2 linked regions of the Homo sapiens genome follow. The protein of the gene in region 1 purifies or fractionates together with the protein of each later gene. This does not show direct contact. Each region holds a gene or a part of one and is shown in the gene's direction. Other genes may lie near its edges.

Region 1 (3,500 bases):
TTTATTCCATCATCTGCATCTATGTATAATAAAGGAAAAATAAAGGCATGAGAAGAGCTAATTTGGTTCTTTGCCATCTTCTTCCACCACATGCTGCATTCTGTTTGCCTGGCACTTGGATGATCTTGTGGCAAGCCCTGTGTTATTGCTCTGATGTGGGACTGAGTCACCACTCCCTCAGAGGAGTCAGATCTGTGAGATGAAATGTGCCATCTGCACTCCAGATCCACTCACATAGCCAGTCAGGGAACTGCAGACAGGGAATGTACAAATCACGGTGGGTTTGCTGGAGAGCTTTTTATCCTCACATTAACTCTTGCATAGCAGGTAGTGCCACAGACTCTTTTTTCTGTTTTGTTTTGTGGATTTTTCTCCTTTAGAACACAATAACAAAAGTTTTGCGAATTGTTGGGTTTTTCCTCGGAGTCTAGCGTACAGTTGTTTAAATCACCATGTACTATATTTGCTTATTATTGCCAGCCTCTTTCTCCAGAGGTAACTGCTTATTAGCTCCTTAGGTGAGACTCTCCCCCTCCTTTTTATTTTTCATCAGATGAAATGAAAACACTAGGAGAGTAAGCAAAAGTTGTAAATAAAACCTTCAAATTCAGCAGCCCATGCAAATGCTTTCAAAACAGACCTCCCCCGTGGGGATCGCACTGGGAGAGAAGAAGGCAGCATTATTTTTCCCCAGAGCTGGGAGCTATTTCCTGAAGTAGTCCTAAAAGGGGCTGAAGAAATGTACTGTTTGTTTTTATAGCCTGAAGCCTGTCCTCAAAAGCTGCCTTATGTTGCATGGTGTGTACAGGATGTGGGGGCGGTGAGAGGGTTAATAAAAGAAAATGCCTTGTGAACCCAGTCATTCCATGTGACATTTTCCTGTAGGAATTTATGCCTGCCTAGTACTGGTTTAACTTGGGTCTTCCTGTGAGCAGCCAGGGAAGACAGTGTGCAGTTTCTGGGGGAAGGAAAAGAGGTCCTCCTTCCTCTTAAATGCTTTTCTCATCTATGTAAGGAGCATTGGGCTGCATGTTTGCCCCTTTCTTCAGAGCTGTAACCCTCCTGTCTGTGTGCCGTTCCAGGTCACTCAGTTGTTCAGAAAGAGGCCAAGAAGAGATGCTGCCGCTCTTCCACCATCTCACCCCTCGTTGGGGTGGTTCAGGCTGCAAAGCCATTGGTGATTCCTCCGTTCCTAGTGAATGTCCTGGAACCCTGGACCATCAGAGGCAAGCCAGTAGGACACCCTGCCCCAGGCCACCACTGGCAGGAACGCAAGGGCTGGTCACAGACACCAGGGCTGCACCCCTGACCCCAATTGGCACCCCTCTGCCTTCAGCCATTCCCTCTGGCTACTGCTCACAGGACGGTCAGACAGGGCGACAGCCTCTCCCGCCCTACACCCCTGCCATGATGCACAGAAGCAATGGTCACACCCTGACCCAGCCTCCCGGTCCAAGAGGCTGTGAGGGCGATGGCCCAGAGCATGGGGTAGAAGAGGGAACGAGGAAGAGGGTCTCGCTGCCTCAGTGGCCACCTCCTTCTCGAGCAAAGTGGGCCCACGCAGCCAGAGAGGACAGCCTTCCTGAGGAATCCTCAGCCCCTGATTTTGCAAACCTGAAGCACTATCAAAAACAGCAGAGTCTTCCAAGTTTATGCAGCACTTCTGACCCAGACACACCTCTTGGGGCCCCGAGCACTCCAGGGAGGATCTCCCTCCGAATATCTGAGTCTGTCCTGCGGGACTCCCCGCCACCTCATGAGGATTATGAAGACGAAGTGTTTGTGAGGGATCCGCACCCCAAGGCCACGTCCAGCCCCACATTTGAACCTCTTCCCCCACCCCCACCTCCTCCACCGAGTCAGGAAACCCCGGTGTATAGCATGGATGACTTCCCTCCACCTCCTCCCCACACTGTATGTGAGGCGCAGCTGGACAGTGAGGATCCCGAGGGGCCACGCCCCAGGTGAGTGAGCAGACTGGGCAGCTTTCCCCCACTAACAGGAGAGTGTCATGCCCCAGGTGGCCCAGGTCCTTCTGCTGGCCACAGAAGAACCCTGGCATGGAGATGTTTCTATACAGCTCAGCTCAGGACACTGTTGATCTGTTTGCCTCAGGAGGTAGTTGGACCAGTGTCATTGGGTACTGAGGAGTCAGGGTGGCAGAAATGAAAGCTGGGACCCAAGGGGCACATTTCACTTCTGGGGACAGGATAGGCTTAGGCGGTCCAAGTAAATCCCTCCTCCCTGGATGAGTTCTGAATCAGTTAGGAAATAAGACAAAAGAGGAGGGCATATAGAAGACAAAAACATCACTTTTATTACTGACAGAGCTAACATTAAAGAATATGGCTTCAGATTGTAAGTGGGTCTCTTGATACTGAACCCCCAAGTTAAACAGCTTTACCTACCTCATCAAAGGTCATGTTAGACACACAAATACACATAGATATTAATATATACAGCCTTGAGGCAGCCTCAGTCTCAAAAGAGAAGAGAGACTGGGATGTGAATGCTCAGCTTCTCTTTCCAAAATCACTCCATGTCCATAGGGAGGAATAAAGAGTAGGGCTCAAGGTCAGTAATGTTTAGGGAAAACCTCTTGGAAGCTAGGAGAATGAGAAAGAAGCATTCCCCAACACATAGTCCCTAGAACAAGTAATCTCTCAAAACACCAAAAAAACACATTGCCTGACAGCACCTTTTGAGTGGCTTTCTTTAAACACCACAAGAGTGACTTACTACCACTACCCCTGTTAACCTAGACCTTTCAGAAATCTCTGGAATCTAACAGCAACATTCACCAGAACTGAATTCCTAGTCCATCTTCCTCAGGAGATGACAACCTCCTGACCAGCTGCTGGGCTCAGGAGCCCCTTTAGAGTGCTGTTGTTTTCTAAAGAAGGGGTTGATCTCAAATGTGACTATCTCACCCTACTCCTATGTATATATCTATGTATGTTTGTGTGTCTAGCATGACCTGTGACTAGGTAGGTAAATGTTTTTAGTTTCGGGGTTCAGTATCAGGAGACCCACTTATAATCAGAAGCCATATTCTTTAACATTAGCTCTGTCAGTAACATGTGGAAGATGTGGAAAGCTACAGCCCTGATGTGGAAAGCTTCTCCCTCAGTCTTTCTCCACCCTCTTATCATCACCCTTCTCTTATCACTCTCTCTTTCTCTCTCTCTCTTTTTTTTTTTTTTTTAAATATCCCTGGCAGCTTCAACAAACTTTCTAAAGTGACAATTGCAAGGGAAAGGCACATGCCTGGTGCAGCCCATGTGGTAGGTAGTCAGACACTGGCTTCCAGACTCCAAACTTCTATCAAGGGTTCAGAGGCTGAGTCCACACCACCCTCCTTCATGAGCGTTCACGCCCAACTTGCTGGGTCTCTTGGTGGGCAGCCAGCACCCATCCAGACTCAAAGCCTCAGCCATGATCCAGTCAGTGGAACTCAGGGTTTAGAAAAGAAAGTCAGTCCTGATCCTCAGAAGAGTTCA
Region 2 (4,286 bases), on another chromosome or scaffold:
CTGAATCTTGAGCCCACGTAGAATCTGCAGAGGGAGGCCGGGCGCAGTGGCTCACACCTATAATCCCAGCACTTTGGGAGGCCGAGGCGGGTGCATTACCTGAGGTCAGGAGTTCGAGACCAGCCTGACCAACATGGTGACACCCCGTCTTTACTAAAAATCCAAAAAAACTAGCTGGGCTTGGTGGTGCATGCCTGTAATCCCAGCTACTTGGGAGGCTGAGGCAGGAGAATCACTTGAACTGGGAGGCAGAGATTGTGGTGAGACAAGACTGTGCCACTGCACTCCAGCCTGGGCGGAGCGGGACTCCGTCTCAAAAAAAAAAGAATCTGCAGAGGGAAGTTAGTGCCTTACAGAGGGCTTCTGACTAGGAAGCCCCGGGACTGTGGCCGACCCCTTCCTCTCCCTGCCTCACCCCTGCAGAAAGATCTGCAGAAAAAGCTGGAAGGGGTGGGAGGGTGTGTGCAGGGGTGGGGACTGGGGCTATGCAGGTTCCAGACCTGGTCTTTGGCACCCTCTACAGGACAGTTCCATTCCCAGACCTGAGCTTTGGACAACTGAATCTTATGCCCCTTCCCACCCATGGAGCCTGGTGCCGGAAGTTCCCAGGACTTACCCACCGTCCACCACGCCACATAGCAAGCGTCCTCAGTGTCTGCAGACCAGAAACACCTCCCTTGTGTCTCAGCACTGGGCCACCTGCTGAAACCCCAAACTGCCTGCCCCATTGTTTGAGACCCAGTCAGGCCTTGGCTCCAAAAGTCCTCTGGGACTGCTGCTGGCCCCCAGGGTCTCTCCTGACTGCACCTCGGTCCCGGAGCTCCCACACCGCTGAGCCCCGAGCCCGATGTCCCGATCCAGCTCTGGGTCCTTTACGGGGGCCTTGCTGGCCTTTCCTAAGGGAGGTGTTTTCCCGAGGACAGGTGGACTGCTCCTCAGACTAGGGGCCCTCGGAGGGCCAGGCCTGGGCTTCTACCTCCTCTCGCAGGCTGGTGTTTCTCTGCAAATATGGCTCGTGTGTCCTCCTTCCTCTCAGACTGGGGGCCCCTGAGGACTGGGCCTGAGTTTCCCTTTCCCCCTTCACAATGGGGGTTCCCTGAGGACTGACCCAGGGCCTCCCCCGTCCCCTCCACCTGGCTGTTAATCTCCAACACTTCCACCTCCAGTCCTATTCTGCACAGCTCTCCCCAGCGCTGGGGGCTCAGAGGCCTCTTCAGCCTTCCCCAGGGCTGGGGCTCAGGGAGGGCTTCCTCAGGCGCTGGCCCCAGAGTCAGGCTGCACATTGGCTTGGAGGACAGGCCTTTCCTCTGGGACTGAGAGGCCCAGAGTGCCCACCCAGAGCTCCACCTCTGACCTCACAAAGGCCTGCTTCAGAACTCGGTCTCCACGGCACTGCTGGCCGGACGAGGGATGTTATTTTGGGCAGTGCATCTGGACTTGGTTCAAGTGGCACCAGCCAAACCCCTGCCTTACTGACCTCTCCCCTGGAGGAGCAGGAGCAGCGCTCGAGGCCGCCCTGGGAGAGCTGAGAGGCAGGCTCTGGACTGGGGACACAGGGATAGCTGAGCCCCAGCTGGGGGTGGAAGCTGAGCCAGGGACAGTCACGGAGGAACAAGATCAAGATGCGCTGTAACTGAGAAGCCCCCAAGGCGGAGGCTGAGAATCAGAGACATTTCAGCAGAGTGAGTGGGGCTCCAGGCAGGGTGGGGATGGGGCAGCCTCCTCAGCGCCCAGATCTGGAAGGGCCATTCCCTGGGTACCATACAGGGAGGAGGTGACTGAGGGATTGTTTGGGGAAGGAGCCCCGTCTGGGAGTGGAAGTCCCGGCTTTCTTGTTATGGTGCAGTCCTGTGTTGCTGTGTGACACAGGCACATACACCCTCTCTCTGGGCCTCAGTTTCCTTACCTGTAAGTTGGTTGTTGGGAGGACCAGCGGTAGAGCAGAGATGGCAGGGATGCACTGAGCTGGGCTGTCAGCAGACCATGGGGGTGGGACGAGGAGAGAGCTGAAGACCACCGGCAGTGGACCACAGCGGGAGGCGTGCAGGCAGGAGACGGGTCAGCTGCCGGCTTGCTGGAGTCATTCCTCCCACGCAGTCCCCTCCTGAGGGGCTGGAGCTGGGGCTGGAGGGTTTCGGCAGTCAGGGCTGGAGATAAGAGTCTGTGCTGGAGCTAGAGGGAACTGGGCTAGAGAATCAGGAGGACAGACAGGGTGAGGGGACTTCGGGCTACCTTCATGCTGTCAGTTAGAGATAAAGATAGGAGTACAAAGGGGAATTTTTGGGTGAGGTACACGGGTGAAATGAGTTTTCAGGGCCTCATCCTGTGTGTTCACCTTCTGTGTGTGTGTGTGTGCATGCGTGCATGTGTGTGTGTGTGCAGGTCCTGGACAGTCGCAGCTTAAGTTAGCAGCAAGAGGACTTGAGGTTAAAGGTATAGCACGCAAATATGAGGCTGGAGCCACTGAGTAGAGGCTGAGGGCATCTCCACAGTCCAAAGCCGGGCTGCAGACACGGAAGGTCAGCAGGAGCACTGGAGGGTCTGGCCTGGGGCTGGGGTCCTGGGGCCAGCATGGGTGGGGTGGGGCTCCAGGGCGTCGCCTCATTGGCTGAGCACCGCTCCTCCCTCCCTGTTCCTTGGCTGGGTTAAGGGAGTGGCACTAGCAGGAGCTGCCCCAGGGCTTCTCCCCTGGGGACCAAGGTCTGATGGAAGTGTGGGGCCAAGTTCTGTGTCCTCCAGCCCTAGTGACCTCTCTTTGGCTCCTCAGCATCTACAAATCTGAAAGACAAAACATGGTTCAAGCATCCGGGCACAGGCGGTAAGTACCCCACCCTCTTCTCACCCTCCAGCCCCCTGTCCTTCACCCAGCCCACTTCAGTGCCCTCCCTGTTCCATCCTCAGCCTCTCCCTTGGGGCAGCTGTCCCCACTCGACCTCCTCCTCCCCACCCACCCACTCGCCTCTGAGGTCCCAGAAGAAGAGCATCTTCCACCTGTTGCCTGGGCTGGGTCCTGGGGTGAGGGGAGGCTCAGAAATACTTGGATGAGGGTCAAGGCATGCAGGTGGCCTTCAACTCAACTGCACTCAGCACCTCTCACCCTCTCAGGCTCAGCTGTCTTTGGGGTGAACAAGAGCCAGTCCTTGCAATGGCCAAGGCCCAGCCTTGTTAGCTTTCTGGCCTCCCCACTCCAGCCCCCTGCTCTCCCTCCTCCAGCCACACTGAGTTTCTTTTCAGGTTTTTTTTTTTTTCCGAGATGGAATCCAGTTCTGTCGCCCAGGCTGGAGTGCAATGGCATGATCTTGGCTCACTGCAACCTCCTCCTCCCGGGTTCAAGCGATTCTCTTGCCTCAGCCTCCTGAGTAGCTGTGATTACAGGATTACAAGCACACACTACCACACCCAGCTAATTATTATTATTATTATTTTGGTATTTTTAGTAGAAATGGGGTTTCGCCATGTTCGCCAGGCTGTTCTTGAACTCCTGACCTCAGGTGATCCACCCGCCTTGGCCTCCCAAAAGGTTGGGATTACAGGTGTGAGCCACTGCACCTGGCCTCACACTGACTTTCTTTGCTTTCTTCAAACATGCTGAGAGTCCTCTGGTGACTAGTCTCCCTCCACCTGAGAGGCTTTCTGCAGCTAACATACAGCCCACTCTCGTCTCCTTCATGGCTTTGCTCCAAGGCCACCTTCTCAACAAGGATTACTCTGGCTGCCCTATTTGAAATCACACCCCATCTCCAGCCCCTGCACTCCCAATTCCCCTCTCCTTGCTCTGTTTTTTTCCGTAGGAGCTGGTACCTTCGCTTATACAAATGTACTTACTTATTACATTTCATTGCTGTCAGCTCCACGCAAGCAGGGATATTTGCCTGTTGTACACTTGGACGGAGAGAATGAATAGTGCCACTCTGTTGACATCATTGCCTCTAGCCTACATCGCTCTCCAGGGCTTTAGATCCTGTTTCTAGAGACCCACTGGTGTCTCACAGGCAACTCAGCTCCTAGATGGAAACAGCCTCCTCCGCCCCCTGCAAGTCCACTCCTCCTGTGCTCTTGGCTCAGTCAGGGGTCCCCTTCTCCTCAGTTGCTCAAGCCAGAAGTCAAGGTCATGTCCTTCATACTTCCCTCTCCCCCATGTCTCACATCCAGTCACCAATCTCCTAAAATATCTAGAATGTGCACAGCTTCCACCATTCTTTCTACCACCACCCTACTCCCCCATGGCCATGTCAGGCCACCACCCGCCCATTCTTCAAAACCCCCTTCAGGCCTCACCTCCCATG

What was found. Proteins that work in one complex are often made in the same cells at the same time.
Region 2: the proteins of SHROOM3 (region 1) and AQP7 purify together in Homo sapiens (pull-down; one study listed by IntAct). This does not show direct contact.

The regions. Positions count from the first base shown.
Region 1 is NC_000004.12:76,753,229-76,756,728, forward strand, and holds part of SHROOM3 (protein Shroom3), read left to right. Parts: intron 1-1,082; coding exon 1,083-1,964; intron 1,965-2,294; exon of another isoform or gene 2,295-3,220; coding exon 3,221-3,500. UniProt on the Homo sapiens protein: Controls cell shape changes in the neuroepithelium during neural tube closure. Induces apical constriction in epithelial cells by promoting the apical accumulation of F-actin and myosin II, and probably by bundling stress fibers.
Region 2 is NC_000009.12:33,399,769-33,404,054, reverse strand, and holds the start of AQP7 (aquaporin-7), read left to right. Parts: upstream 1-1,486; 5' UTR 1,487-1,682; intron 1,683-1,906; exon of another isoform or gene 1,907-2,534; intron 2,535-2,767; 5' UTR 2,768-2,792; coding exon 2,793-2,818; intron 2,819-4,286. UniProt on the Homo sapiens protein: Aquaglyceroporins form homotetrameric transmembrane channels, with each monomer independently mediating glycerol and water transport across the plasma membrane along their osmotic gradient. Could also be permeable to urea.